Linked DNA regions of Homo sapiens: regions 1, 2, 3, 5, 6 and 7 are each linked to region 4. Evidence: fine-mapped expression QTL. A gene starts in region 4. Each other region holds a variant in brackets. All regions are shown on one strand. Distances are between the middles of the regions.

Region 1 (4,000 bases), 63 kb before region 4:
GGCATAGGGTCAGAATTGGTCCACAGGCCAGAGGCTGCTGACTCCTGCTCTATGGTCTTATTTACACATCATTGGCCTCCACCTCACACTTTACTGAATTAGAATCTGTATTTTAATAGGATCCCTGGGTGGTTAATAGTCACATTACATTTTGAGAAGCACTGCTCTAAGGCAGTGGTTTTTCAGCGTGGCTGCATATTAGAAGCACTTGAGCTTTTACAAAATCCTGATTCCCAGGCTGCCCTATATACCAATTAAATCAGAGCTTCTGGAGATGAGTCCCGGGCATCAAGATCATTAAAACTTGCAGTTGATGCCGATGTGCAGACAAGGCTGAGCACAGTGGTTCAAGGGGCTCATTTAATGCAATCCAACAAGCGTATCTGCTCAGGAGAGAAAAAAGCTCAATTCTCCCCCAGGGCCGCTGTCTCGCAGGCATGAATGGCTTCTGGAACCACAGAAACCCCCAAGGAACATAAGTGATGAAAAAGAACACTGGAGCAAATTCTGGATGTTTCCTTCCAATCCTCTGGTGTTGTGTGTCATTAGAAAAAGTAATTTTGGGGCCGGGCGCAGTGGTTCATGACTGTAATCCCAGCAATTTGGGAGGCCAAGGTGGGCAGATCTCTTGAGCCCAGGAATTCGAGACCAGCCTGGGCAACATGATGAAACCCGTCTCTACAAAAAATTAGTGGGTGTGGTGGCATGCGCCTGTGGTACCAGCTACTCAGGAGGCTGAGATGAGAGGATCACTTGAGCCTGGGAGGCAGAGGTTGCAGTGAGCTGAGGAAATTGCACCACTGCACTGCAGCCTGGGTGACAGAGTGAGACCCTATCTCAAAAAAAAAAAAAAAAAAAAAAAGAAGAAGAAAAAGAAAAAGTAATTTTGGAAATAAAGAACTTACTTGAAAGGATGTTAGCAATTTTACCTCAAAAGTTAAAATCTAGCTGAAAGTAGACAAGTCATTCATCTTTTTCAACTTTGGAATTATGTAAAAGAATTAATTCAATTCTATAGGGACTGTGCTCAGAAGAATTTTAAATTCTAGAACATTTAACAAAAAATATACAGATATTCCTAAATAAGCCACCACTGAGTGGTCAATATTTTTCTTTAAGATTCTTGGGTCCTATAAGACAATTTCACAGATGAAGCTTACTTTTGCCAGTGTAAGTAAATATTTAACACTTTCAAAGATGCTTCTTGGATTGATACCCAGGCAGCCATAAAGGAAAAGCAGTAATAATAGGTGTTTTGAGGGGTCGGGCGCGGTGGCTCATGCCTATAATCCCAGCACTTTGGGAGGCCAAGGTGGGTGGATCGCTTGAGCTCAGGAGTTCAAGACCAGCCTTGGCAACATGGAGAAACCCCATCTCTACAAAAAAAAATACAAAAATTAGCCGGGCATGGTGGCACACGCCTGTAGTCCCAGCCACTCTGGAGGCTGAGGTAGGAGAATCGCTTGAACCAGGGAGGCGGCGTTTGCAGTGAGCTGAGACTGTGCCACTGCACTCCAGCGTGGGAGACAGAGTGAGACCCTGTCTCAAAAAAAAAAAAAAAAAAAAAAAAAGAAAGAAAAGGAAAAAGGTGTTTGAGAAAAGCAGGCTTGTGTCTTAGTTTAAAAGCCACTTAATTCAGTTTTTTGTTTGTTTCATTTTTGCTCTATAAATGGAGGAAATAGTGCCATAAGTATGTTACTATTTCTCTTGCTCTTTTCCAATATTTGCATTTTCTCCTCTTCCACAGAAAGGTAATAGAAGAGGCACTTCATCAGAGAATTAAGTTTACAAGCAAAACAAAAATGTATTAATTTACTCCTTTAATACCAAAATTCTTCCAGACTCTACACACACATTGCCTTATCAGAGAAACCTATCCAGGCCATCATATTTTAATCACACCCTTCATCTCTAACACTGCTTTCCTTTCTTCACAGCAGCAGCTGTTACAGATTTCTTTTAGTGTCTATATACCCCTTCTGCCCCTTCCAACCATGATCCTAAGAACTAGAATTATTTATTTATTTAGAGACATAGTCTTGCTCTGTCACCCAAGCTGGAGTGCAGTGGCACAATCTCGGCTCACTGCACCTCCACCTCCTGGGTTCAAACAATTCTCCTGCCTCAGCCTCCCAAGTAGCTGGGACTACAGGCACGTGCCACCACGCCTCGCTATTTTTTTTGTATTTTTAGTAGAGACAGGGTTTCACCACGTTGGTCAGGCTGGTTTTGAACTCCTTAGCTCAGGTGATCCGCCTGCCTCGGCCTCCCAAAATGCTGGGATTACAGACGTGAGCCACAGCACCCAGCCAAAGAACTAGAATTTAAAAAGCCCTTTAAAGACCAGGCATGGTGACTCACGCCTGTAATCCCAGCACTTTGGGAGGTCGAGGCGAGTGGATCACTTGAGCCCAGAAGTTC[T/G]AGAGCAGCCGGGGCAACATGGTGAAACCCCACCTCTACTAAAAATAGAAAAAAATAGCCAGGCATGGTGGCACACACCTGTGGTCCCAGGTACTTAGGAGGCTGAGGTAGGAGTGTCACCTGAGCCTGGGAGGTTGAGGCTGTGGTAAGCCACGATTATATCACTGCACTCCAGCCTGGGTGACAGAGTGAGACCCCGTCTCAATAAAAAAATAAAAATAAAAATAAAAAGCCCCTTAAAGAGAGGGAGAGCCTTTGTCTATTTTGTTCACTGTGTATCCCCGACCCTAGGAACAGGGTCTGCAGCATAGTAGATACACAATAAGCATTTCGCTAATGACTGAAGGGACAACATTCACAACCCTGTAAAGAAGCTAGCCATCAGGGTTCAGGTAAACAATCTAACATAATACGGAGAAACAGAAAAGAACTCTGCATTTAGTGAGGCATAATACCTGGTGAAAGTAATACACATGGCAAAGCTACTTCTCATTCATGATGATTTATTTTATAAAGCAAAGACACAATTGTACTGAGCTCCTGAGGACTTCTGGCTCTGTTGTCTTACAAGAGGCCACTCGTTCACTTGTTCAAAAATTGTCGGAATTTTTAGAAATGGAAAGAAGGACTCTAAAGTTACATATATCAAAACCTCTAAGTGTCTGTTATTAATAATAGTTCTTACCATCTTCCAGTTGCCTGTTAAGCACTGAGCACAGTAATCAGTGCATTGTATACTGGATACATAGAAGTTTTCCAAGCAGTGGCCTATGGACTCATGCTAGGCCATGATGAAACCCTTACTAGTCCATGGATACGTGAGAAAAAAACACTAGGGACTACAGAAAACTGATCTTTATTTTGGGATTAGGTCCTTCTTTCATTTTGAATGTTAAAATATCCTTTCTTTTATGAAATGCTAATAGATTTGTGGAGATATTGGTATAGGTTGTTTTTAAGATTTTTGCTTGGCAAAATAAAAGGTCGGGTCCTCAAAAAAAAAAAGAAAAAAAAAGAAAAAAAAAAGAAAAAGAAAAAGAAGTTCCTAGACTAGGACTTACAGATACATATTATCCCACTTACCCTTCATAGCAATCCTATGAACTAAGTATTAGTAATCCCCATTTTACAGATGAGAAAATTAAGGCTTAAGAGAAAGTAACTCGCCTTGGGTTATACAGCCGGCAGTGGTGGAGATGGGGTTTAGTGCAGGTGTTCAAATTCATTTTTTTTTTTTTCAGAGACACAGTTTCACATTGTTGCCCAGGCTGGAGTGCAGTGGCATGGTCATGGCTCACTGCAGCCTCGACCTCCTGGGCTCAAGTGCTCCTCCCACCTCAGTCTCCCAAATAGTTGGGACCAAAGGTGTGCACCACCACACCTGGCTAATTTTTAAATTTTTTTGTAGAGACACAGTCTCACTATGTTCCCCAGGCTGGTCTTGAACTCCTGGGCTCAAGCAATCCTCCCTCCTTGGTCTCCCAAAGCACTGGTTTTACAGGCGTGAGCCACCATGCCCAGCCTCAGGTCTCCAGCTTGAAAACACATTTTTTTTTGTCTACCATTCTACTGCCAGAAG
Region 2 (4,000 bases), 79 kb before region 4:
CAAGAAACAGAACAGCACCAGAACCCCAGAAGACCTCCTTTTGCCTCCTTTCAACTATTACCTTCTAAGACTTACCACCATTCTAACACCTACATTGCTTTTTTTTTTTTTTTTTTAAGACGGAGTTTCACTCTTGTTGCCCAGGCTGGAGTGCAATGGCGCAATCTCGGCTCACTGCAACCTCTGCCTCCTGGGTTCAAGCAATTCTCCTGCCTCAGCCTCCTGAGTAGCTGAGATTACAGGCATGTGCCACTACGCCTGGCTAATTTTGTATTTTTAGTAGAGACAGGGTTGGTCATGTTGGTCCATGTTGGTCAGGCTGGTCTAGAACTCCCGACCTTAGGTGATCTGCCCACCTCAGCCTCCCAAAGTGCTGGGAGTACAGGCGTGAGCCACCGCATCTGGCCACATTGCTTTGTCTTTTATACTTTATATAAATGGAATCATGCAGTATGTACTCTTTGCTATCTGGCTTCTTTCACTCAACCTTATATGCATACAGTGGCAGTTTGTTCATTTTCAATGATGAATAGTATTCCGTGATGTGAACACACTACCATTTATTTATCTGATAAAGGGCATGTATAGAGTTTCTAGTTAGGGCCGTTATGAGTGTTGCTGTGACTATTTCAGTGCATGTCTCTCCATGAACATACGGATGCATTTCTCTTAGGTACTTACCTGGGAGTAGAACTGTCTATGTATGCTCACTTTTGAAGAAACTGCAAATAGGTATAACAGCTTATCTGAGAACTGAGGGCCCAGTTCTGCTTTTGCCTGCTTTTAGTCCTAATGATGGGGTTCTATACCAGATCTGTACCAAATCTGATCTTCTATCACCCAAGACTGAAAGACTCCCAAACCATTCTATTGCATCTACCTTAAAAATATTATCTTCACAGATATTGCCTGTGTTTTTTTTTCCTAAAGAAGAGGCTGTTAACCAAGAAGGGTAGAATAAATTATATTGTAGTTCAAGGCAAATTCTATTATAAAGGACAAGCTGCCTAGCAAAACACAACTTATAATTACATTTAACTTCAAAATAAATCAAATTATTCATACAAACCCAACCACTCACTGGTAAATTAATGAAAAACATGACAGTATTGAGCTTTGAATTGCTTCTATGCAAACCCCCAAACTTAAATTTAGGTTATTAAGGCCGAAAAGAGGCAATTAATTTGCAACAAATGCATCCGTAAAAACCTGTTACAACATGGCTGCGGAGTTAATCTTCTCTAAGTTTATAAAGACCATCTGCCCAATTTTTTTGCAGGTTTTCCTTTAGACAATCCTATTTAGACAGTCCCTCCAGACTAATTGCTTTCTTGCTTTTTGAGGGGAGAGGGAGATTAGTATCTTTTTCCAATATCTCCAGTATATAAGCTTCATAAGAGCTCTGTTATCTCAAATGTTGAGTTTAATTTCCTTTCCAGAACATATTGGTCAGAATGTTAAACCTCAAATAAAAAGATTAGTGAGTAATAGTAGGGCTTAAATAAATTAAGGCTTGTAGGCTATGTTGCTACTTTCTGTTTCCAAAAGATAATCTTTTTTCATGTTATTAAACATCATTTGTGACCTTTAAAAAGAACTCCCTGAACTCATTAATTAATAATAAAATCTGGCTGGGCATGATGGCTCACACCTGTAATCCCAGCACTTTGGGAGGCCAAGGCGGGCAGATAGATTGAGCCCAGGAGTTGAGACCAGCCTGGGCAACATAGTGAGACTCTGTCTCTACAAAAATAATTCAAAAAATGAGCCAGGCATGGTGGTGCATGCCTGTAGTCTCGGCTACTCAGGAGGCTGAGGTGGGAGAATCACCTGAGCCTGGGGATGTTGAGGCTGCAGTGAGCCAACATTGCACCACTGTACTCCAGCCTGGGTAACAAAGAGAGATCCTATCTCAAAATAATAATAATGACAATAATAATAGAATCTGGCTAGACTATCACATTAGTGAAATGATATAAAATGACATAAAATCATGCCAATTTTCAATTTTAAGACCTGATAATGCCTATTACACATCTTCAAAATTACTAAATCGATTTGAAATGGTACAAACTACAATCAAATATATTTTACTTGGCACCATCAATTTAAGAAACTGCAAATCAGCACAATAAGGACAGTGAAATG[C/A]GAAGCAAAAGAATTGCAGAAAAAGAATAATTCCCCCAATATTACTATATTCCTTATGGTGACAGAAGGAAAAGGAAATTTGTTCTTCTTGGTACAAGACCTACTTCCATGCAAGTGGAAAGGGTGGCTGCTCTAATGATGTGGGAATGGAGTCATCAAGAAATGACTCCTTCCAGCAGCAGGAAATGGTTTGAGGGGCATGGAAAGGAACTTCATAGGCCCTTCCATGGCACCTAGAGTCCCCATTCTGCAGGCCTTTAAGGTTACGATATGTTATAATGTATTATGACCAACATATTTATTCATTCAACAAACAGCTATGAAAGACCTATCACACTGTTCTAAGGTCTAGAGACTCTGTGATGACTAGCACAGATATGGCCCCTGCCCTTACGGAGTTAAAGATCTAGAAGAGGAGGTAGAACCCAGGATAAATAATTATACAGATAAATTCTAATAAGTGACACAAAGGGTGTCCCCAGAGGAGATGACAGTGACTAAATCTAGATGTATGTTGGGGGGAGGCAAGTTAGGGAGTGACTTGGTTACATACAACATGCAATATAGTTAATCAGTGTTGAATATGCTGACTCTACTCTTTATAACTAACACCACCTTTAACCAAGTAAATGATATTCATCGTATCTTTGCATCAGTCATTTCAATGCAACTAATTTTTTGAGCACTTGTTTTTATTTCAACTACTTGGAGGTACCACAAAGGAATGCAGAGATGACCATGGTGTAGTTTCTACCCACAAGAGTGAATGATCTGGTCTATAGAGGAAGTGGTCCACAAATAACTGGCAAGACCACAGCATGAAGTGCACCCTAGTGAAGTACGCACTGTAATGAAGTACGTGTCGAATCAGCCGTAAGGGAAGCTAACTGGAGGCAAGGGAAATCTGCAGAGAGCAAGGGGATTCAGGCTGGATCCTAAGACTATATAGCATTTCTCCAGGCCTAGGAGGGAAAGGCACTCCTGGGAAAGGGAAGAGGTGTGAAAAGTTGAAAAGAAGTGCAAAGGTCATTGTGTATTTGGTGAGCAGGCTGCAGACTGGCAGAATGGCAGGGGAGGAGGGTATGGGGACAGAGATGGGGGGCCTGTGGGTGAAGGCAGGTGGGCCAGACTGCGGGGGCCCATGACTCCAGGCTGGGTGGGGGCTGCAGACTGGGGGTGCCATAGGGCACTGTGCAGAGCTCTTCCACTTGACCTCTGGTCTATATCTGCTCTCCCCGTCTCCACCCTGCTCTGCCCTTGGGAGGCGGACTACGTGGACTATGGCTGATGGCTGCCCTTGCCCTCCAGCTTCGGGTTGGGAGCCAAGAGGAGGCCTGGCAGGAGGTGGAAGGAGGGAGGAGGCAAGGTTGGACTATTTACATCCTTGGATCCCTTCCTGGGCTGGCGGCATCCCTCCAGCAGGCCCACAGCTCGCATCAAGACAGCCCCTCCACACAGCTGCTGCGAGCACACGCTCTCATGGTGGCGGGCCCCAGGCTCTGTGCTTTCCCTGTGGGTGCCACGCCCACTCATGCCTTTGTACATAAGCTCTTCATTAAGCTCTCCTCACTTTACCTGGTTGGACTGTTTCATCTCTTCTCCACCAGGACTTGAGCTGATACAGTCAAGCAGCAAGGAAATGGGGTGGGAGTGGGGGCTACTGACGGCATTAGGGGCAAATGCAGAGAGGGAGGGTCTGGGAGAAAGAGGGGACTGGGGGATGGTAGGTGGTGATGTGGTGAAGGGGGGGATATGAGGGAGGGGCGATGACAGACTAGCCACAGACCACAGCACTTACGTGAAACCTATGCGTGCCAGGCCCTCTTCCCCAGGCTTTCACAGAATTCATTTA
Region 3 (4,404 bases), 63 kb after region 4:
GGAAACCAATTTCCGTTCCTTGACAAGGGAAACCCTGTTTACACTCAGGGTTTCCTACTCTGTTACATAAGGGTCCGACAGTCACATTTCCTCCTCATGCTGTACAAGCAGTTTATTTCAAGCTGCGTCTACACACAGCAACTGGACATTTGCAGAAATCTTAGGGCCGTAGTCCTGCAGCATAGCCAGACCCAAAGCAGGGTACGTTAGGGTTCAAGGCCACCCTGTGCCCTCTACTTTCAAAGAAAATATCCTTGAGTGGTGGAATTTGGGTAATTTTAACTTTTTAAATTGATTTTTCTTTTTTTTTTGTTGAGACAGATTTTCTCTGTCTCCCAGGTTGGAGTGCAGTGGTGCAATCTCAGCTCACGGCAACCTCTGCCTCCCAGGTTCAAGTGATTCTCATGCCTCAGCCCCTCGAGTAGCTGGGATTACAGGTGCGCCCCACGACGCTAGGCTAATTTTTTGTATTTTTAATAGAGACAAGGTTTCTCTATGTTGGCCAGGCTGGTCTTGAACTCCTGGCCTCAAGTGATCTGCCCACCTCGGCCTCCCAAAGTGCTGAGATTACAGGAGTAAGCCACCGTGCCAGGCCTAAATTTATTTTTCTGTTTTTCAAAATTACATAACCGTCATGTTTTACTTTTATACTCGGAGGAAAAACATAAGCTTTGTTTAAAAAAAAAAAATCAATGATCGAATCAGCCTCTCTAATAGCCTACCCAAAAAGAAGTCCCCCTTTAGTGTGACTGGCTACCTCTTTCCAGACAGAAACTGAGGGCCAGAGTGGGTAACCTGTGACCCAGAGTGGGTAACCCGTGGCCCAGAGTGGGTAACCCGTGGCCATCTGGCCAGTAAGTGGCTGACTCAGGTCTTCATGTGATGACCCTGGGCATAGGTCTTATGTTAAGGTGGAAACCCCTAGAAGCTGACTCTGAGACAAGGACTCTTGTGCAAGTAGCTTATGTGGGAGGTGACTCCAGGAAACACCCGTGGGGAGGACGGGAAAAGGGAGCGGGGGCAGAGCGGTGGGGAGGGCGGAGACTGAGACAGAGAGTAGCTAATTAAGGGACTGGGGAGAAAGGGAGCTGAGCTGCATTTGTCCTCAGGGCACCTCTGGGAGCCAGTGTGGAACACACCTCTGCACGCTGCCTCTGCCGGGAAAGGCGGCTGGAGTGTTGAACATACCACCCCCCATCAGTCAGGCAGCAAGGGCTGCTTCCGGTGTGGGGCCAAGTCCTGGACACTCTGGCCTGCCACGTTGGGGGTAAAGTGGGCTCTGGCAGCAAGAGGAAGCCCTTGAGCAGCTGGCTTCCTCTTGTGAGGAAATAAGGGCCCCTACTTCCAAGGGGCCATGAGTAGGGCCCCGCCCGATGGAGAGGTCAGAGTGAGGGGACATGGTGGGCAAGAAGAGCACCTGCTACAGGTCTAACAGGGAGCAGCCTAAACTGGACCTAGGGGGCATGGAGATCCCTAACAGCCAAAGCCATAAAGTTGCACTGCTGGTCACAGTGCTCCAATCTTCATTCAAGTGAATGGATTACCTCCAGGAAATTAGTTATGAGAGGCAACACATTAATTCATGGCGCCAAGTACCATCTATGTCAGTCAGGATTCTTTGGTTGCAAGTGACGAAACCCAATTCCAATCAGACCCAATTCCAAGCAGACACAAAGGGAAAGAGGAAGGGCGCAACACTTCCTTGCAT[G/A]AGCAGGAAGGGGAAGGTGCAAACTGTCTGTAATTCATCACATGGAGTGGGCACGAATTTTGCAATTTGTCTACCCAAAGGGAGTGCCTTTTTAAAATTTTTGCCCTAAACCATCTTCATGTTAGCAGCAGCTCAGTTATTCTCAGGAGAAGGATACCAGGCACACAGAATGACAAGTGTCCTCCTCAAAACTGTGACAGATAAAGTAGCTGCCACCCAGCAGAAAATAAGCCCACGACGGAATGGTAACTGTTGTGGGCTAAACTGCGTCCCTCAAGCAGATATGTTAAGGTCCCAACCCCTGGGACCTGTGAATGTGATCTTATTTGGAAATAGGGTCCCTGCAGATGCAATCAGGTTAAGATGAGGTCATACTGGATTAAATGGGCCCTAATCCAATATGACTGGTGTCTTTGTAAGAGGGGAAGAGGCCAGGTGCAGTGGCTCATGCCTGTAATTCCAGCACTTTGGGAGGCCAAGGTGGGTGGATCACTTGAGCTCAGGAGTTCAAGACCAGCCTGGGCAACATGGTGAAACCCCATCTCTACCAAGAATACAAAAATTAGCCAGGTGTGGTGGCATGCACCCGTAGTCCCAGCTACTCAGGAGGCTGAGGTGGGAGGATCGCTTGAGCCCAGGAGGCAGAGGTTGCAGTGAGCCAAGTTCACGCCACTGTACTACTCCAGCCTGGGTGACAGAGTAAGACCCTGTCTCAAAAAAAAAAAAAAAAAAAAAAGAGAGAGAGAGAGAAGTAACACAAGACACAGACACAAAAGGAAACACAGACACTCAAAGAGAGTGCCCTGTTGTGATGACAGGAATAGAGATTGGAGCAATACACGCAAGAACCCAGGAATGCCCAGAAGCTAAGAAAAAGGCATGGAATAGATTCTCCCCCTAGAACATTCAGAGCACACGGTCCTGCCTACACCTTGACTTCTGGTCTCCAGAACTGTCAGAGAAGCCACTCAGATTGTGACACTTTGTTATGGCAGCCCTGGGAAACTGATGCAGATGCTAACTTGACACTGGAGATCTAGAGGCAAGGAGGATGAAGTCCTGGACAGGACAAAGATCTGCCGTGGGCTCAGCATGAGGACACGGGGCAGCTAGGGTGTAAAGGGAGCCTGTGCTGAACTGGAAGGTGAGGTGAGTGCGCACCCATATGCCTCCCACCTGCGCTGCTGCCCATGGCCAAGTCTTTCTATGTGAGGAGTGACTTCCTACCCAAGCAAAGGTGACTAAGAGGAACAAAACATCCCCAACGTTTCCTTTAGATGGTTGCAGATCTTCTCTTCGAAGCCGTTACCTGAAGGTAAAGTGAAGGGGGGCAATGCTCTGTGGGAGGTCATTCCTTCAAATCTAGACGTTTTCTCATTTTCTTCGACTTCTGGGTTGAGTCTTCTTCTGCCACTCTGGCTGTAGCAATTTGACACTTAGCTAACCCTTGTTGAATGCTCCCTATGTGTTAAGCAATGTTTGTTTCGTTTTGTTGAGAGACAGGTTCTCATTCTGCCACCCAGGCCGGGGTGCAGTGGTGCGATCACGGCTCACTGCAGCCTTGACCTCCTGGGCTCAAGTGATCCTCTCACCTTGGCCTTCAGAGTAGCCGGGACTACAGATGTGCATCACCGTGCTCAACTAATTCAATTTCTTATGGAGACAGGATCTCACTAGGTTGCCTAGGCTGGTCTTGAACTCCCAGGCGCAAGTGATCCTCCTGTCTTTGCCTCCCGAAGTGCTGGAATTACAGGTGTGAGCCACGGTGCCAGGCCAAAGTCTTAAGTCTGCACTGTCTCATGCAATAGCTATAGCCACATGTGGCAATGTACATGTAAATTTAAATTAATTAAAATTAGATAAAATTAATCATTTAGCCTGGGCACGGTGGCTAACACCTGTAATCCCAGCACTTTGGGAGGCCGAGGTGGGCGGATCACCTGTGGTCAGGAATTTCGAGACCAGCCTGGACAACATGGTGAAAACCCTGTCTCTACTAAAAATACAAAAAGTAGCCGGGCCTGGTGGTGGGCATCTGTAATCCCAGCTACTCCGGAGGCTGAGGCAGGAGAATCCCTCGAACCTGGGAGGCGGAGGTTGCAGTGAGCCAAGGTCATGTCACTGCACTCCAGCCTGGGTGACAGAATTAATAATTCAGTTTCTTGGTTGCACTAGCTACACTCCAAGCACTCAGTAGCCAGTGGCTACTGTATCAGACAGCGTAGAAGATTTCCGTCATTGCAGAAAGTTTTACAGTGCTGTTCCAAGTCACTCACATGTATTACCTTATGCAATCATCACACCTCCTCTGAGGTAGGTTCTACTATCATCTTCATTTTAAAGTTGAAGAAATTGAGGCTTAGATCACAGAACAAGTAAGTCAGAGGAGCCAGGCTCGGCAGAGCATTCAGACCAGGCAGAGTTGAGGCACCACAGATTTCACCCATTTTCAGCAAGCTTGGCTCAGGTGAAGGCTCCAAGTAGCCTGTCCTTTCCCACTTTTTCCTGCACTTCCTCACTGTCCACTCAGAATTCCCAGTTCCCTTAAGGATCAGGAAACTAAGAAGGTAAATATGTGTGTAGTACCCAAATATTCTGGTACTTCTCTTTCTTTCAGTTCTCCCCTTTCCAGGTAAATGATAGGATTATACTTCCTGAGCCCTCATGAGCCTTCCAGGCTCATTGTTAAGTGAATG
Region 4 (4,338 bases):
CTTGTGTCTCAGCCTTCCAAGTAGCTGGGATTACAGGCGCACGCCACCGTGCCTGGCTAATTTTTTTATTTTTCGTAGAGATGGTGTTTCATCATGTTGGCCAGGCTGGTCTTGAACTCCTGACCTCAAGTGATCTGCCTGCCACGGCCTCACAAAGCGTTGAGATTACAGGTGTGAGCCATGGAGCCCAGCCCATCTCTAGTCATGGCACCTAGCCCATCTATTCTCTGAGGCTGCTACTCACACTTCATCTACGTAACAAGGACCTTGAACCACACAACTCCCTTATCTTAGTTCAAGCATTCTTTTCTACTGACTTCAAGTCTTTAGACAAAGCTTAACTCTCTCAAGCAACTGTCAGCTAAAGAATCCCTAAAATCCACCTAAGACTTCTAAGACCACCCTTGGACATATCCACCTTTTTGGGTCTAACCAATGTATACCTTCCATGTATTGATTTATGTCTTTGCCTGTTAACTCCTGTCTCCCTAAAATGTAAAAAAAACAAACTATAACCCAACTGCCTCGGGATCACTTACTAAAGACTTTTTGGGTTTGTGTTTTCTCTCTGGGCGATGGTCAATCATACTGGCTCAGAATAAACCGCTTTAAAATAGTTTACAGAGTTTTATTTATTTGCTAACAGTCTGACACATGATACAAAGACAAGCTTTGAAAATATTATACATAGTATAAGAAGATAGCCGGGCGTGGTGGCTCACACCTGTAATCTCAGCACTTTGAGAGGCTGAGGCAGGTTGATCAAGAGCTGAGGAGTTCAAGACCAGCCTGGCCAAGATGGTGAAACCTCGTCTCTACTAAAAATACAAAAATTAGTCGAACGTGGTGGCAGGCGCCTGTAGTCCCAGCTACTCGGGAGGCTCAGGCAGGAGACTAGCTTGAACCTGGGCAGCAGAGGTTGCAGTGAGCCAAGATCGTGCCACTATACTCCAGCCTGGGCTACAGAGTGAGAGTCATGAGACTCCGTTTAAAAAAAGAACAAAAGTCATGAAAGAAGCTAGTCACAAAAACATTGACATTATACTTAATGAAAGAAGCCAGCTGCACTGTATGATTTCATTTATATCAAACGTGCGAATTGGCAAGGCTATACAGACAGAAAGTATACTAGCAATTGTCTAGGACTTGAGGCGGAGTGGACGTGGTGAATGTAGAATGACTGCTACTGGAGGCAGGATTTTTCTTTGGAGTGATGAAAGTATTCTAAAATGAGATCACAGTAATAGATGCACAATTCTGTCAACAACAACAAAAAAACCCTTAATGTTACCCTTTATTATTTATTTTTGGGTACGTTGTCTTGCTCTGTCTTCCAGGCTGGAGTGCAGTGGCGCGATCTGGGCTCACTGCAGCCTGGAACTCCGGGGCACAAGCGATTCTCCCACCTCAGTCTCCTGAGCAGCTGGAACTACAGGCGAATGCCACTATGCTAGGCTTGATTTTTTTTTACGCTTTAAATGGGCAAATTTTACTTAGTAGGTGAATAGAAATTTCCCAAGAAAGCTGTTTTTTTGTTTGTTGGTTTTTTAGCAGAACCTCCTGAAGTGGCAGGTCACTGAAAAAATTTAAAAAAAAACAACAAAACCGAAGCTTATCCATACTCACTATCCACAAATTCCCAAAATTCCCCAAAGCACAGGCTGCAGACACCGTGTGTTGGGGCGGAAGGGGCGGGGAGCTAGCAGGAAATCCTGACATGCCTAGGAAAGCCTCCATAACTTCCTAATTGAGAGAGAACGATCAGATGCATTGCTGTGACCCCCGCCCCCACCACTCCAACCCCCCCCCATCCCATCCCGCGCTTACCTCTCCTCCAAAGCACTCCAGAAAACTGAGGAGAAAAGCCGCCAAGCCCCCCGACACACTCACCATCCGCAACCGGAACGCGGAAGCAATGGCGCCATCTTTTTTATGGGAAATGTGAGGTTCGAAGGAAGTCACCGGAGCCATCCTTACTGCGGGCAGTGAAGGGCAATGGAAGCCGGTCGCGGCCATGTTGACTGAGGCTTTTGGCCTGTCAATGAGGCTTGCCACATGTGGCTATTTTGGGCAATTTCCTGAGGAGGCTTGTCGATAAATGTGCTTGGTAAACCCTAAGGGAACAGAAAAAATATTCAAAAATTTAAATGTTGGCCGGGAGCGGTGGCTTACGCCTGTAGTCCCAGCACTTTGGGAGGCTGAGACGGATCACTTGAGGCCAGGAGTTTGAGACCAGCCTGGGCAACATAGGGAGACACTGTCTCTACAAAAAAAATTTTTTTTTAATTAGCGAGGCATGGTGGCACATGTCTGTAGGCCCAGGTAGTTGGGGGGCTGAGGTGGGAGAATTGCTTGAGCCTGAGAGGTCAAGGCTGCAGTTGGCCATGTTCTTGCCACTGCAGTCCAGCCTGGGCAACAGAGCTAGACCTTGCCTTTTAAAAAAAAAAATTCGTCTGGGCTCAGTGGCTCACGCCTGTAATCCCAGCACTTTGGTAGGCCGAGGCAGGAGGATCACCTGAGGTCGGGAGTTCGAGACCAGCCTTACCAACAGAGAAACCCTGTCTCTACTAAAAATACAAAATTAGCTGGGTGTGGTGGTGCAGCCTGTAATCGCAGCTACCCGGGAGACTAAGGCAGGAGAATCGCTTGAACCCAGAAGGTGGAGGTTGTGGTGAGCCAAGATCGTGCCATTGCACTCCAGCCTGGGCAACGAGAGCGAAACTCCGTCTCAAAAAAAAAAATAAATAAAATTCAATGTCTTGGAGAGGGTGGGGTGGCATGCCCCTGTAATCCCACTGCTTTGGGAGGCCAAGATGGGAGGATTACTTGAGGCAAGGAGTTCAAGACCCACCTGGGCAACACAGTGGAGACCTTGTCTCTACAAAATGGTTTTGTTTTTTTTTTTTTGAGACGGAGTCTCGCTCTGTTGCCCAGGCTGGAGTGCGGTGGCGCCATCTCGGCTCACTGCAAGCTCCGCCTCCCGGGTTCACGCCATTCTCCTGCCTCAGCCTCCCAAGTAGCTGGGACTACAGGCGCCCGCTACCACGCCCGGCTAATTTTTTGTATTTTTAGTAGAGACGGGGTTTCACCGTGTTAGCCAGGATGGTCTCGATCTCCTGGCCTCGTGATCCGCCTGCCTGGGCCTCCCAAAGTGCTGGGATTACAGGCGTGAGCCACCGTGCCCGGCCTACAAAATGGTTTTAATAAATAAATAAATAAACTTGAATGTCTACATTTTAAAAATATGAAAAGTAGAAATTAAAGATGAGGATGAAAATATTGTAATATTCTGATGCATGCAGATAACTACATAACTGCCACAACTGCAGGACCACAAAAAAGAGACTGTCTAAAGACAAAATTACAAAATTAAGATTTAGCTTAAAGATCTAATTGGCTTTTGTTTACAATTCTAGAATCAGGCAGCATCTCATTCTATAAGATTGAATGTTCCAATGAGCTGAGCAGACAAGGTTAGCTTCATAGGCAGAAAAGGGGCTAAAGAATGCAGAAAGAGATTTGAACAAAAAGCAAATTGATCGTCCTTTTTTTTTTCTTTTTTTTTTTGAGACAGTCTTACTCTGTCGTCCAGGCTGGAGTGTCCTGGTGCGATCTCAACTTCCATCTCCTGAGTTAAAGTGATTCTTGTGTGTCAGCCTCCCTAGTACCTGGATCACAGGCGTGCACCACCATGCCCGGCTAATTTTTGTATTTCTAGTAGAGACAGGGTTTTGCCATGTTGGCCAGACTAGTCTTGAACTCCTGATCTCAAGTGATTTTCCCGCCTGGGCCTCCCAAAGTGCTGTGATTACAGCCATGAGCCACCGCACCCGGCCCTGCAAATTGATCATTTCAAAGTTACTTTCCTTGTAGGGTTAAAACAGAGAAGACTTCCTTATTATATTTACTCAGATTGACTGGAATCTCCCGTTTTCTGGAAGATGGGCTTGTTTCAAAGTTCAGTTTGATTACATGGCACTTAGCACAAGTAACTCAGTTCTGATTTGGCCTGGCCTGCTGGGGCCTAGTGGAGGAGGTCAGACCAAATCAATTGCCTCTTATAAAATTTAACAAAACTGAGGGCTCTTTTCCCCTTTCACCATTTTCTTGAAAGAGTAGTGTATACTCATAGCCTCCTATCGATGCCTAAATTGGAATAATAACCCATAAATTAGGAGTCCTGGACTTAAGATAAATATTTTACCTATACACTATTTTCTTTTCCTTTTATTTATTTATTTATTTATTTATTTTTTGGAGATGGAGTCTCACTGTGTCGCCCAGGCTGGAGTGCAGTGGCGCGATCTTGGCTCACTGCAACCTCTGCCTCCCGGGTTC
Region 5 (4,000 bases), 71 kb before region 4:
TATGACTCATGCCTTTGGGAAGCCGAGTCAGGTGGATCACTTGAGGTCAGGAGTTTGAGACCAATCTGGCCAACATGCCAAAATCCTGTCTCTACAAAAAAATACAAAAGGGACTGAAGGCAGAGGGGTGGAGGGAAGAGGCCTGAGGCCTGAGGTCAGTAAGAAGTGCCTTGAAGAGCCAGCAGAGGAGGATGAGAAACAGCAGCCAGTGAGGGCAGGAGGAGAAGCTGAGGGAGGGGTCCCAGGAGCCAAGGGAAGAACAGGTATCCGGGAAGGGGGGGATCAACAGTGTAAAACGCTGCTGCTTGGTCAAATACAAAGGACTGGGAACCGACCACTGGATTTGGAAGGACAAAAGACACCACAGTTCCATAACAATAGCAGTGGTGGAGTATATATGGGGGTGGGGGCGGGGTGGGGGAGGGAAGGCAAAAGTGTGACTGGAGTGGGTTGGAGAGAAATCGGGAAGGTAAGAGGTGGAGAGAGTGAGTATAGACAAATAAGACACATCTTTCATAGCCTTCTGCTATAAAAAGGAACAGAGAAACAGGGCAGGACCTAAAGAGGAACCTGGGGTCATGGATTTTTTTTTTTAGATGGGAAATATTACATCATCTTTGTATGTAGCCAAGAATGAGCCAGTCAAGAGAGAAAGATTGATAATGCAGGAGTGAGGGGTTAACGGTGGGTGTGAAGTCCATGACTAGGAGAGAGGAGATGAAGATTAAGTGGAGGGGCTGGCCTTAAGCAGGGCATAAACAACTCACCCACTGTAACAGTCTTCTTGGTGGCTGCTCCCTGCTTCTCAGGTACGATAAGGAACCACACAATTTGTCTCACTGCTGGGACTTAGGGACACAAGCACACACACTCACACACATGCACACAACAAAGCAACACAGCTCTGAGCACTCACTTTATTCATTTATTTATTTTTAATTAATTAATTTTTTTGAGATAGAGTCTCACTCTGTAGCCCAGGCTGGAGTGCAGTGGTGCGATCTTGGTTCACTGCAGCCTCTGCCTCCCAGGTTCAAGTGATTCTCCTGCCTCAGCCTCCCAAGTAGCTGGCACTACAGGCACCCGTCACCACGCCCGGCTAATTTTCTGTATTTTTAGTAGAGATGGGGTTTCATCGTGTTGGCTGGGCTGGTGTCAAACTCCTGACCTCAGGTGATCTGCCCGCCTTGGGCTCCCAAAGTGCTGGGATTACAGGCATGAGCCACCATGCCTGGCTTTGAGCACTTACTTTAAATCTCTCAAGAAAATTAAATTAAATGAACAACTGAAGCAGTAAATGTTAGTTCACCTGAGTCAACACAAAGAACTTTTAGTTAATAAACTTTGCCTGGCCAGTCACCTATGAGGTAGCCAGCATCCAGGATGGCTCCTCACCTCCTAGCACTCACACCCTCAGGTGGTCCCCTTGCATGTGGTCCCAGGGTTGGTCTGTATGACTGTCGAGTGCAGCAGAGGAGATGGCCCATCATGTCTGAGATGAGATCATGAAAGACTCCAGGGCTTCTGTTTGGCTGTCTCCCTCTCTCACGACTCACTGTGGGGAAGCTGACTGCCACAGTTCAAGGACACTCAGCAGCCCTGGGAGAGGCCCATGTGGAGAAAAACTGAAAACTCCAGCCAAGCATCCGGTGGCAGTCTTCTCTGAAGCAGCTCTTCCAGCTCCAGGGAAGGTTTCACTTGGCGGCCACCTCATGACAGACCCTGAGCCAGAACTACCCTATTAAGCCCCTCCTGGATTTCTGATCCTCAGAAACTCTGATATGATCGATGTTTGAGTTTTCCAGAAATTTGTTATTACTCCCAGCTGATAACTAAATTCCCTATCCCTCAATATCCAGTATACTATAATCAAGTTTTTTTGTTTTGTTTTGTTTTGTTTTGAGATAGAGTCATGCTCTGTCACCCAGGCTGGAGTGCAGTGGTGTGATCTCAGCTCACTGCAACCTCCGCCTCCTGGTTCAAGCGATTCTCGTGCCTCAACCTCCTGAGCAGCTGGGATTATAGGTGCACACCACCACGCCCGGCTGATTTTTGTATTTTTAGTAGAAACGGGGTTTCACCATGTTGGCCAGTCTGGTCTCGAACTCCTGACCTCAGGTGATCCGCCCACCTCAGCCTCCCAAAGTGCTGGGATTATAGGCGTGAGCCACCACCACGCCCAGCCTTAATAAGTTTAAACAAACTATATTTTACAGGCTAAAAAAATGTTGGTCACAGACTTCCAGGCAATTTTTAAAGCCCCATGTTTAATATATTTGTCATTGATGGATCTATAAATTTTTATTTTCTCAGTTGATTAAGCACAGATATTAAAAGATTTTCCACAG[G/T]ACTAGAAGTTGCTGCCTTAACATCCAATACTTAAGCAAACCGTGGATATCAAAGAAGGACTGGGAAGCTCTTTATTTTATGGGACTTTAGGGGAACTGCCTTCCCAGCAGGCTCTTCCTGAGCAGTCTGCTGGAAATTCTTTGTGTAGCTCTAAGACAGCCTAGATCTAGGACAATATATCAGGTTTTTAGGTAACAGCCTGGTTGGCTTTGTCATCCCTGGTCTCTTTCTCCAGAACACTGTAAATCAAAGGCCCAAGCTAAAGCTTGTACATCAAACCTAGAGACAAAAAGGAGAAAAGATCAAAGGAGACATAAATAAAACTTTTCCCTGTGAGACAGTATGGCAGCAGGCTAGGCCATCATTTAATATCAGTCTGAAATAATATTTTCCCTTCTTCACTTTGTGAACTTTGCCTGGTCTTTCACAACTATCCTTTTTTAAACCTTCTCATGTCAAACAACTCTGAGTTTGCCTGGTGAAAATGTCACTGTGGAAGAATTTCTTTTAATCTGAACATCTTGGAGGCTGGTTTCTTGGGTGTTCTATCACTGGGTGGTGAACTTCAAGAGGGCAGACACTGCCTTTAATTCACACTTCATCCCCAGGGGCTAGCACAGTGTCCAGCACATAGCAGCTGCTCATTGAATTTTTGCTGAATAAAGGCACTGAATTTGCTTTCCGTCTCTGAAGATCTACCAAATACTCTTTTGTATCCGTTGAGTATCCGTTGAGTGTTTATTGGCGTAGCATGGTGCAGGGAACCATCAGGGACATGAAGCTGAATGTGACATATATTTGAAGCATTTAATAAGACTGGCTGGGCATGGTGGCTCACGCCTATAATCCCAGCACTTTGGGAGGCCGAGGTGGGCGGATCACCTGAGGTCAGGAGACAAGCCTGGACAACCAACATGGTGAAACCTTGTCTCTACTAAAAATAGAAAAATCAGCCAGGCATGGTGGCACACGCCTGTAATCCCAGCTACTGGGGAGGCTGAGGCGGGATAATCACTTGAACCCAGGAGATGGAGGTTGCAGTGAGCTGAGATCACAGCACTGCACTCCAGCCTGTCTGGGCGACAGAGCAAGACTCCTTCTAAAAACAAAACAAAAAACAAAAAAAAAACACTGTCAAGTCCTCATTATGTATCCACCAGAACTCAGTAATTTTTTAGGCACAACACAAAGGTGTGGCTGTCTTAGCAAGTTACATGATGATTTTATTGTTGTTGTTTTTAAGAGACTGGGTCTCACGCTGTCATTCAGGCTGGAGTGCAGTTGCACCATCATGGCTCACTGCAGCCCTGGCTTCCTGGGCTCAAGCCATCCTCCTGCCTCAACCTCCCAAGTAGCTAGGACTAAAGGTGTACTCCACCATGCCTGGCTAATTTTTTTATTTTTTGTAGAAACAGGGTCTTGCTGTGTTGCCCAGGCTGGTCTCGAACTCCTGACCTCAAAGGATCCTCCTGTCTCAGCCTCCCAAAGTGCTGGGATTACAGATGTGAACCACCATGACTGGCCTACATGATGTTTTAATATGACAACAGCCAACATGACAATAGTCGGTGTTGTTCCTACAGTGCATGAAATCAGTAAGCATTCATTGAGTACTTCTTATATGTGATGAAAGTGAAGCAATTACAAAGGC
Region 6 (4,000 bases), 110 kb before region 4:
CCCCAACATGACTATATTTGGAGAGAGGGCTTTTTAGGAGGTAATTAAAGTTAAATGAGGTCTATAGGTAGAATCCTAATCTGAAAGGATCCTTATAAGAGGAGGAAGAGAAAAGGAGATCTCTTTTTTCTTTCTCTTTGCAAGCACTAAGGAAAAGCCATGTGAGCACACAGTGAGAAGGCGGCTGTCTACAAGCCAGGAAAGGAGCCCTCACCAGAAGCTGACCAGGCAGGCACCCTGCTCTTGGACCTCCACGCCTGACCCTGATATAAGCTTTTATAAATCACTAGCTTTGACATTTCCCTGCCCCTACGAACTCAATCAGTAGCTACAATAAACATATCTGTACTTGCCAATGCTGAAGTAAGGTGCATGGTACAGTGGGTGGAGCTTTAGGAAAGGAGGTAGGATTTTGGTTTGGGCCCTAGTTTTGCTACTAGCTGGAAATGACATCTTGGACAAGTCATACAACCTTTCTGGGCTTCAACTTTCTCAACTTTAAAATGAGGGTTTTACTAAACAATCTCTCTTCTAGAATGTCTATGGTAATGTAAAGATCAGAGAAATAGATTATCCGGAAGTTATCAGCACATTCTAAAAGAATATGGACATGTGTTCTTTGAGTCACACGCAGGCCTACACATGGACAAGCATTCATCCATTCAACACTTATTTATAGAAAGCTGATATTAAGGCAACTCATTACAAGTTGTTGAAGATAGACAGATGGATGCTGAAGATCATGTCCCTCATCTGAGGTACTTGGAATCTAAGTAGGAAGAAGAGACATCGTTACAGACATTAAACAACTGAAATATAGTCACAGGATGTACATAGATATGAAATGATGTAGTGACATTAACTGGGACACTGTGGACTCTGTGGAAACATGCAGTGCCAGGGTAGCAGAATGAGTGCATGCTCCCTCTTCAGAGGAGGTGACCTGCAATCTTATTCTGAAAGGACCACGCAATGGAGAAGCAGAGTTGATGAACAAAAGGCCAGTGGCAAGAAGAAATAGAAACTAAATGTCTCCTTGGCTGGTTCCAGTTCTCCTCCTCTGCCAACTGGCCTTTCTTCAGCAGCCTGAGACCCAGCCTGGAGGCTCAAGGAGAGAGAGAACTCAGAATGGCCAGGGGGCACCCAAAACAGAGAACACGCTTTGTAAAAAATTCGATAGCAGGGATGGTATTTCCACTACACTAGTTTCCAGAAAGCTTAAAGCTATGTCCCAGGCCCGTCTTTTTTTTTTTTTTTTTTTTTTTTTTTTTTTTTTTAAAGAATAGTAAAGAAACTTTCCTTGACCTTGCTATGCCCAGAGCTTTTACCCAAGTTCTTCCCAAGAACACTATCACTGGACTGAAGCCTCCAGGATGGGTGGAAGGGGAGGGAGACAGATGCTGGTCTCTTTCTTGTTCTGATGGCATAGAAGCAGCAGGAGAGGAGTTCTTGGCCTGTACTCTTCAGAAGTGCCAGGTTTGTGAAAACCAAGGAAGGACTGAGCTACTGTCCCAGAATGAAGGAGGCTAAAACAGCCATGACAGCCAAATGCAAAAAAAAACTTTTTTTAAACTTCATCTTTTCATTGTAAAGCACATTACTGGGGCAACTGGAGAGCTGTGAATGGGGTCTGAGGATTAGATGGTAGTAATGCATCACTGTTAATTTCTTGATTTTGATGATTTTATTGTTTTAGAAGAGAATGTCCTTGTTTGTAGAAAAATCAGGATTGGTGGCCTGATTTTTTGTGAGCAAATCTCAAATAATTCAT[A/G]AAAAAGGGCTCTTTGTTTTAAAAAATTGTTGTAAAAAAATTAAAACAAACCTCTGGGGGGATAGATGTAAAAACTTCCTTTGCTGGCCTACTTTAATATCAAGCAACCAAATAAGAAGCCTTAGCTTGGGTAATTGCCTAACAAATGATGCTGCTGTTAGAAAGCTGAAGGGAGAAGGAGAGGGAATGGGGTCCCGTGATGGCAGGATGAAGGGTCCCTTCCTACCTTCTTACCCGCAGATGACCTTGTCCTGGGTAGGGGTTGGGAGGTGGTGGCTGGAAGACAGAAGCTGGGAAGGGCCAATGGGGTGGGTGGGAGAGAGCGGGGGATGCCCACCAACAACACTGGGAAAGTTGAACCCTCAAAACTGTCCACGTACAATAGAAAACGCCAAGCAACATGGCACGTACTTGGTAAGTAAATTGTCAATGTGCTTTGATATGCAGGATTTAAAATTTTCATCTGTGTTTCATTTAATTTAAAAATTTTGAAATCCAGTGTCCACAAAAGAGGCTAAAAGCTAGCTGTCTCCTATACTTTTCATGCACATGTCAGGCAGTCTGCCAGTCGTCTTCAGAGAAACAACCCTTCCCCTTCAGAAGACCAATGACATACGGGTTGAGTCATTTACTATGTCAGTTATTTTGAATGCTGCCTGCAGTCCATTTCAGTTTTTGATTTCCTTTTAAAATTTGCTTTACTACCAACTATAAAGCCTCCTCTCTAATCATAAGGCTGTTGTAGCTTTTGGATGTCACCATTTCTTTGCCAGCAAATGTAGCTAATTGCTTTTCCTTTCCTGATGTGTCCATGTGTGGAAAGAATGATGGTACTAGTCAGTTCGTGCTCAGTGATGCATCCTCCCAGTTACGTTCAAACCCCACCTTATTCTCTCTGTTGGTATATTCCAACCTTGTAGAGCTGTCAAAGGGGGATAGCAACGTCTTCAGGGAGAGTCTAGGGATGTTTTTGTGTCAGGGATTGCAAAGTGCTACTTGCATTTAGTGAGTGGGGTCAAGGATGTAAACATTCTACAGTGCACAGGACAAACAAAGAATGGTCCATCTCCCAAATACCAATAATGTCCCCCTGCCCCTCACCCCTCCCCTGGGTCAAAGGATGGATCTTGAAAGGAGTGGGAACTCAATGTTGACTCCCGCTGCACTGTAATATGTTGATTTGCCTTGAGCTCCCTAAGAGACTTTTGCTGTTGGTCCCCATTCCCTGCACAGCACCCTTCTTGCTGGTACCTATTCGAGTTACACATTTTCCCTTCTCAGACCATGAGATGGCTTTTTTACCCCACAACAATGGTTGAGGGGGAAAACCATTGGCCCTGGTCCCAGTGATTCTGGTATTATTTAAATTGAATGGAACTTGCCTTTTTATATATTTTCCATCATGAATAGGATTTCTTTAGAAATTTACAAGAAGAAAAGGAGGAGGGCAGGGCTTGATATCACAATGCTTTTGCATGCATCCAATTGTTAAATTTTCTCTTTGCCAACAAGAAAAGAGATAACATATAGATACTTCAGATTCCTTTTGAGGTGAAGTCTTACTCTGTCACCCAAGCTGGAGTGCAGTGGCATGATCTCAACTCACTGCAGCCTCCACCTCCTGGGCTCAAATGATCCTCTCACCTCAGCCACCCGAGTAGCTGGGACCACAGGTGTGTGCCACCATGCCTGGCTAATTTTTTGTATTTTTGGTAGAGATGGGGTTTTGCCATGTTGGCCAGGCTGGTCTCGAACTCCTGGCCTCAAGTGATTTGCTCACCTTGGCCTTCCAAAGTGCTAGGATTATAGGCATGAGCCACCACGCTCAGCCTGATACTTGAGATTGTTATACACCTAAAAATATTTTTATATATTTAGGAGTTGTAGGTGCTTATTTGAATTCAGAAGACAGTCAACTGGCATGGAGCACTTGAGATTAATAGTTGTGTTCTGCAAGAGATGCCATTAGCCTTTAGAAACCCAGATATCTAATGAGGGATTCTTCCAGAGAACTTTCCATGGCTATTTCTGTGGTTCATAAATGCACAGCAGGGTTTCATCTCCGTGAAACATTTTTGCCTTCAACTGTAACAAGTTTCTACTAAATAGATTTGATATTTAGAATTCTGCCTTCTGCATGCATCTGAATCAATAGCCACCCACCCACCCTGCTTGATTGTCCAGAGTTTCTTTTACTAGCAATTGCTGATTAAGAGGACCTATGTATGG
Region 7 (4,404 bases), 81 kb after region 4:
TGGAGGTTGCAGTGAGCTGAGATCGCACCACTGCACTCCAGCCTGGGTGACAGAGCAAGACTTTTTCTCAAAACAACACCACCACCACCACCACCATCTGGGCTGGAGAAATGTAAAGGGGACATATCCAAGCAGTTGGTGGAATCTCTCTCTTCTGTTTCATGGTGAGGCAGGGATTCCCAGAAGAGCATGAGCCCTGTTTGTCTGGATGCCTCTGCTCCCATCAGGGCCCTCTACAGACAGACAGCTCTGGTCACCCTTGTGTTGTAAACAGATCGCCAAGGCCCCTGGTCTCCAGCGCTCCCTCCCTCCTTCACAGGCCCCACCTCAGCATTTAAACTTCTTCTGGAACTTTTGCCTGAGCCCCAGATTCTCATGGGTCTCATTTGCTGTCTTGCTGCAGACACTGAAGGAGCTGAGCACAAACTTTCCATTATTTTCTTTTTCTTTTTTTTTTTTTTTTTGAGATGGAGTCTCGCTCGGTTGCCCAGGCTGGAGTGCGGTGGCGCGATCTCGGCTCACTGCAAGCTCCACCTTCTGGGTTCATGCCATTCTCCTGCCTCAGCCTCCCAAGCAGCTGGGACTACAGGTGCCTGCCACCACGCCTGGCTAATTTTTTTGTATTTTTAGTAGAGACGGGGTTTCACTGTGTTAGCCAGGATGGTCTCGATCTCCTGACCTCGTGATCCACCCGCCTCGGCCTCCCAAAGTGCTGGGATTACAGGCATGAGCCACCGCGCCCGGCAACTTTCCATTATTTTCAAAGGGGACATCATACTGAGTTTCTGAGGTTGTTAGAAAAATAGATGATTTGTGCCACTAAAGTTAAAGATGGGGGCATTTTTTTTAGTGGACAAAAAAGTAATAAATTTTAGGAGCATTGTTTCACTCTCAAACATCATTATAATCATGCAGAAGGAAAGAAAACTAATCACTTATGGTTCCATTACCACCTGTTTTCACATTTTTAATGACAGTCAGCAAAAGCGGTAGGTTTAAAAGAACAATTTTCGATTTCTTCTCACCTCGATTTTCTGCTAGTGAATTTCACTGTTGCGTCTTGAGTGCTTCTGTTGCAACACATGTGTGTTCATTTCTGCCTATACTTGTGGCCTCTCTCCAGCTATTAAGCCACCCACAGTTTAATTCATGTGTATCATCCGTTCATTAGGGAGTGCAAGGCAGAGGGGTTTTGAAAACTATTTTCATTCAATCTAGTGCGTGTGGAAAAAAAGAAAATTCTATTTTCTCTAATTGCATTTTCTACCATGCTCTTTGAATCCCCCTTCCCATCCCTCAGTGATATCTACAATAGATGCTACTGGAGCCTTAACAATACAGCTCTCAAATTCACACCAACTTCTTCTTGTTTTTTTGTTTATTGAGACCGAGTCTCACTCTGTCACTCAGGCTAGAGTGCAGTGGTGTGATCTTGGCTAACTGCAACCCCTGCCCTCCAGCCTGGGTGACAGGGCGAGACTCTGTCTCAAAAAAAAAAGTTAGACTCTTCCTCTCCGAGAGCTGGAAATCTATGTTCCAGGATTCTCCCTGTTCCCCACCTCGCCCAGGTGCCCTTTCCAGCCTAGTTCTCCACCGTTGGCATTCATGAGGAGAAGAGGCTCTGACCTCCTCCTTGACTGCCCTCCTAGGAGGATTCTCTCAGGCTGGGCTCTGCAGCTGGAGGCCCCCATAGAGGCGGTGGGCTCCGCTGAGATGGTGAGTGCCATTCTTTCGGAATGCCACATGACTTCATGTGAGCCCTTTCTACTCCTGAGGTCATCCCTCAGGCAAAGGCAGTCAGGTCTCCCCTCAGCCTCTACCAGCCTCTGTACTCTAGCCTTTCTCCGGGGGAAGCTTCTCTTTGCTGGACACCACCTGGGCAGCCCTAGGTATCCACCCACCACTCCACTTTATGCTCCTTCATAAGGAGGCGTGGGACCCTTGATG[C/T]ACTCTTCCTGCCCTCAGGCAAAGGGAAAGCCCTCATCCTTTCCTTGTGGGGCATGCTTATCCACAACAGGCTGCTTCATCAGGCCTCCCCTTTTCACAGTTTTTCATTCAAGAAGCACTGCCAGCCTCTGGCTTTATGAGCACTCCCAAAGTCCAGGGATATGTGTCAACTCTCCCAAAATCCCTGAATGTGTGAATATTCAAAACTGAGTCCCTGATAGCCTCCCCAAACCTGCTCCTCCTGCAGTCATCCTACCACAGCTAGTGGCAATTTCATCCTTCCAGATGCTCAAAACCCATGGAGTGATCCTCAGCTGGTCTCTCTTCCCCATACCCTATTTCCAATGTGAGAGCAAATCCATCAGCACCACCTTCAAGATACATCCAGAATCCAACCTCTTGTCATCACCTTCACAGCTATCATCTCTCACCTGAATTATTGTAATATCCTCCCAACACATCTCTCTGCTTCCAATCTGCTCGCTGTATCAGTTATCCAATGCCATATCATCCTTACTGAATATCCTTATTGGATATTATGGAGTACATTTCATAAGAAACAGCCACAAAACCTCAGTGGCCTGCAATACTAATGCCTCTGGGGTTAACTGGGGACCAGCTGATGGCTCACGCCCATGTCTGGGGATCAGCTGGTTGAGTTGACTGAGGCTATTCAGCTCTGCTCTGTGTGTTTCTCATCCTCCAGCGGGCTCGCCTGGGCAGGTTCTCGGGACGATGGCAGAAGCACAAGATAGCAAGTGGAAACCTGCAAGGCTCCTTGAAGCCTTGGCTTGGAACTGCTGTGCCATCACTTCTGTCTCATTATATGGGCCAAAGCAAGTCATATGGTCAAGCCCAGAGTCAGAGTAGAAAGTCTTTACCAAGTACATGGCTGAAATAAAGTCAAGTGGTAGGAAAGTGCATGTTGCCTCTTGTTGGGTGGAGCTGCAATGTGACAGCAAAGCATGTAGATGAGGGGAGGGATGAAGACTGGGACTTTCAACACAATCAGCTTCCCACATCCCTGCCCTGTCCAGCCTCCCATATAGCACTTCACTGCTTAAAACTCTCCCAACTATAAAACTCTTGGAAGAAAATTTAGGGAGAAAGCTTCATAACATTGGATTTCACAATAATTTCTTAGATATCATGCCAAAAGTACAGGCAACAAAAGTAAAAATAGATAAATTAGGTTACACCAAAATTTGAAATTTCTGTGCCTCAAAAGACACTATCAAAAGACTGAAGAGGTAGCCTACAGAATGGGAGAAAATATTTGAAATTATATATATAATAAAGGGTTGATATGCAAGCCATATGAAGGATTCCTACAACAAAACAAACAACCCCAGTAAACATGGGCAAATAAACATTTCTCCAAAGAAGACATACGAATGGCCAACAAGCACATGAAAAGACGCTCAACATCACTAATCACCAGGGAAATGCAAATTGAAACCACAGTGAGATACCAGCGCTCCTTTCTGGAGGCTCTATGAGGAGAAGCTGTTTCTTTACTCATTCAGGCTATTGGCAGAATTCAGTCCCTTTCGGCTGTAGAACTGAGGTCCCCTTGCTGGCTGTGAGTGAGGGCTGTTCCCTGCTTCTAGAGGCTGTCCCTTGGCTTATGGCCCCCTTCCTCTAATTCAAAGCCAACAATGGTAGGCAAGTCCCTTTCATGCTTTGAACCTCCCCTAGAGTCAGGATTTTGCCATGGTGCCCAGGCTGGTCCTGAACTCTTGGGCTCAAGCGATCTGCCCATCTCAGCCTCCCAAAGTTTCTTTTCTACTTTTAAGGGCCCATGTAACTACGTTAGACCTGTCCAGACAGTCCAGGATAATTTCCTAACCCAAAAGTCCATAAATTTAATTGCATTTGCAAAGTCCCCTTTACTAGGTAATGTAGCTTGCGCAGGTCTAAAACCAAGGATTAGGGAATTGACATCTTCAGGAGGATTGTTACTCTCCCTACCACTATGACCCCAGGTGAGAGCGTCAGAAGAACTGCCCAGCTGAGTCCAACCCAAAGACTGACCCACAGAGACACCAGCAAATAAGATGAGTGGTTTGCTATTGCAGCAATAATGTGCAGGCACATCATGACCACAATAATCTCTGATCACAAACAGCCAAAGGAAAATGCCCTTGGAATATGTACTCAAAATGCAAAGGAGTCACTCAAACCTTGAAAGCTCTCAGAGACAAAGTTCTTGGGGCTCACTCAGAAACCTGATCCAATCTTCTTGCTGTTAAACGTTCCTCAAAATGAGAAATGGGTAATCAATCTTGGAAGGACAATGGATTCTCCAAATTAATTATCAGTAAAATGTAGAGGTTGGACTCAAAAGACCATTAAATGTCTACCTATGCTCCATGCTTTTCTGATTATCTCACACCCAGCAGCATGTTGAAAATTGGTTGTGGTGGCCGGGCGCGGTGGCTCAAGTCTGTAATCCCA

Alleles and levels. Positions count from the first base shown, and alleles are read on the strand shown. Sizes are in standard deviations (SD) of each study's normalised expression. Not every link is listed here.
For the expression in CD8 T cells of the gene that starts at base 1,906 in region 4, A is the high allele of the variant in region 2 and C is the other (small effect, 0.36 SD a copy in CEDAR).

Evidence for each region. PIP is the estimated chance that this variant, and not a neighbour inherited with it, causes the effect.
Region 1: its variant is the best candidate, but not a certain one, in a credible set for the expression of SHLD1 in lung (TOPMed, PIP 0.56).
Region 2: its variant is the best candidate, but not a certain one, in a credible set for the expression of SHLD1 in CD8 T cells (CEDAR, PIP 0.89).
Region 3: its variant is the best candidate, but not a certain one, in a credible set for the expression of SHLD1 in whole blood (TOPMed, PIP 0.84).
Region 5: its variant is the best candidate, but not a certain one, in a credible set for the expression of SHLD1 in whole blood (INTERVAL, PIP 0.53).
Region 6: its variant is the best candidate, but not a certain one, in a credible set for the expression of SHLD1 in blood mononuclear cells (TOPMed, PIP 0.83).
Region 7: its variant is the best candidate, but not a certain one, in a credible set for the expression of SHLD1 in whole blood (TOPMed, PIP 0.77).

What each region holds. Positions count from the first base shown.
Region 1 is chr20:5,811,517-5,815,516 of GRCh38, reverse strand. The region is part of intron 2 of SHLD1 (shieldin complex subunit 1); the gene reads right to left. Among named protein-coding and RNA genes, the nearest start is that of SHLD1, 63 kb to the right of the region's middle. The variant T/G (reference allele first, on the strand shown) is at 2,422.
Region 2 is chr20:5,826,805-5,830,804 of GRCh38, reverse strand. All of the region lies in intron 2 of SHLD1 (shieldin complex subunit 1), which reads right to left. Among named protein-coding and RNA genes, the nearest start is that of SHLD1, 78 kb to the right of the region's middle. RefSeq lists an enhancer at 3,451-3,952. The variant C/A (reference allele first, on the strand shown) is at 2,149.
Region 3 is chr20:5,685,373-5,689,776 of GRCh38, reverse strand. No RefSeq gene overlaps it. Among named protein-coding and RNA genes, the nearest start is that of SHLD1, 63 kb to the left of the region's middle. RefSeq lists an enhancer at 1,173-1,673. The variant G/A (reference allele first, on the strand shown) is at 1,709.
Region 4 is chr20:5,747,969-5,752,306 of GRCh38, reverse strand. SHLD1 (shieldin complex subunit 1) reads right to left here and starts at 1,906. Exons shown (of 3, transcript NM_152504.4): 1 at 1,828-1,906. RefSeq lists an enhancer at 2,031-2,080.
Region 5 is chr20:5,819,413-5,823,412 of GRCh38, reverse strand. The region is part of intron 2 of SHLD1 (shieldin complex subunit 1); the gene reads right to left. Among named protein-coding and RNA genes, the nearest start is that of SHLD1, 71 kb to the right of the region's middle. RefSeq lists an enhancer at 446-585. The variant G/T (reference allele first, on the strand shown) is at 2,349.
Region 6 is chr20:5,858,154-5,862,153 of GRCh38, reverse strand. All of the region lies in intron 2 of SHLD1 (shieldin complex subunit 1), which reads right to left. Among named protein-coding and RNA genes, the nearest start is that of CHGB, 51 kb to the left of the region's middle. The variant A/G (reference allele first, on the strand shown) is at 1,772.
Region 7 is chr20:5,666,916-5,671,319 of GRCh38, reverse strand. No RefSeq gene overlaps it. Among named protein-coding and RNA genes, the nearest start is that of GPCPD1, 58 kb to the right of the region's middle. The variant C/T (reference allele first, on the strand shown) is at 1,948.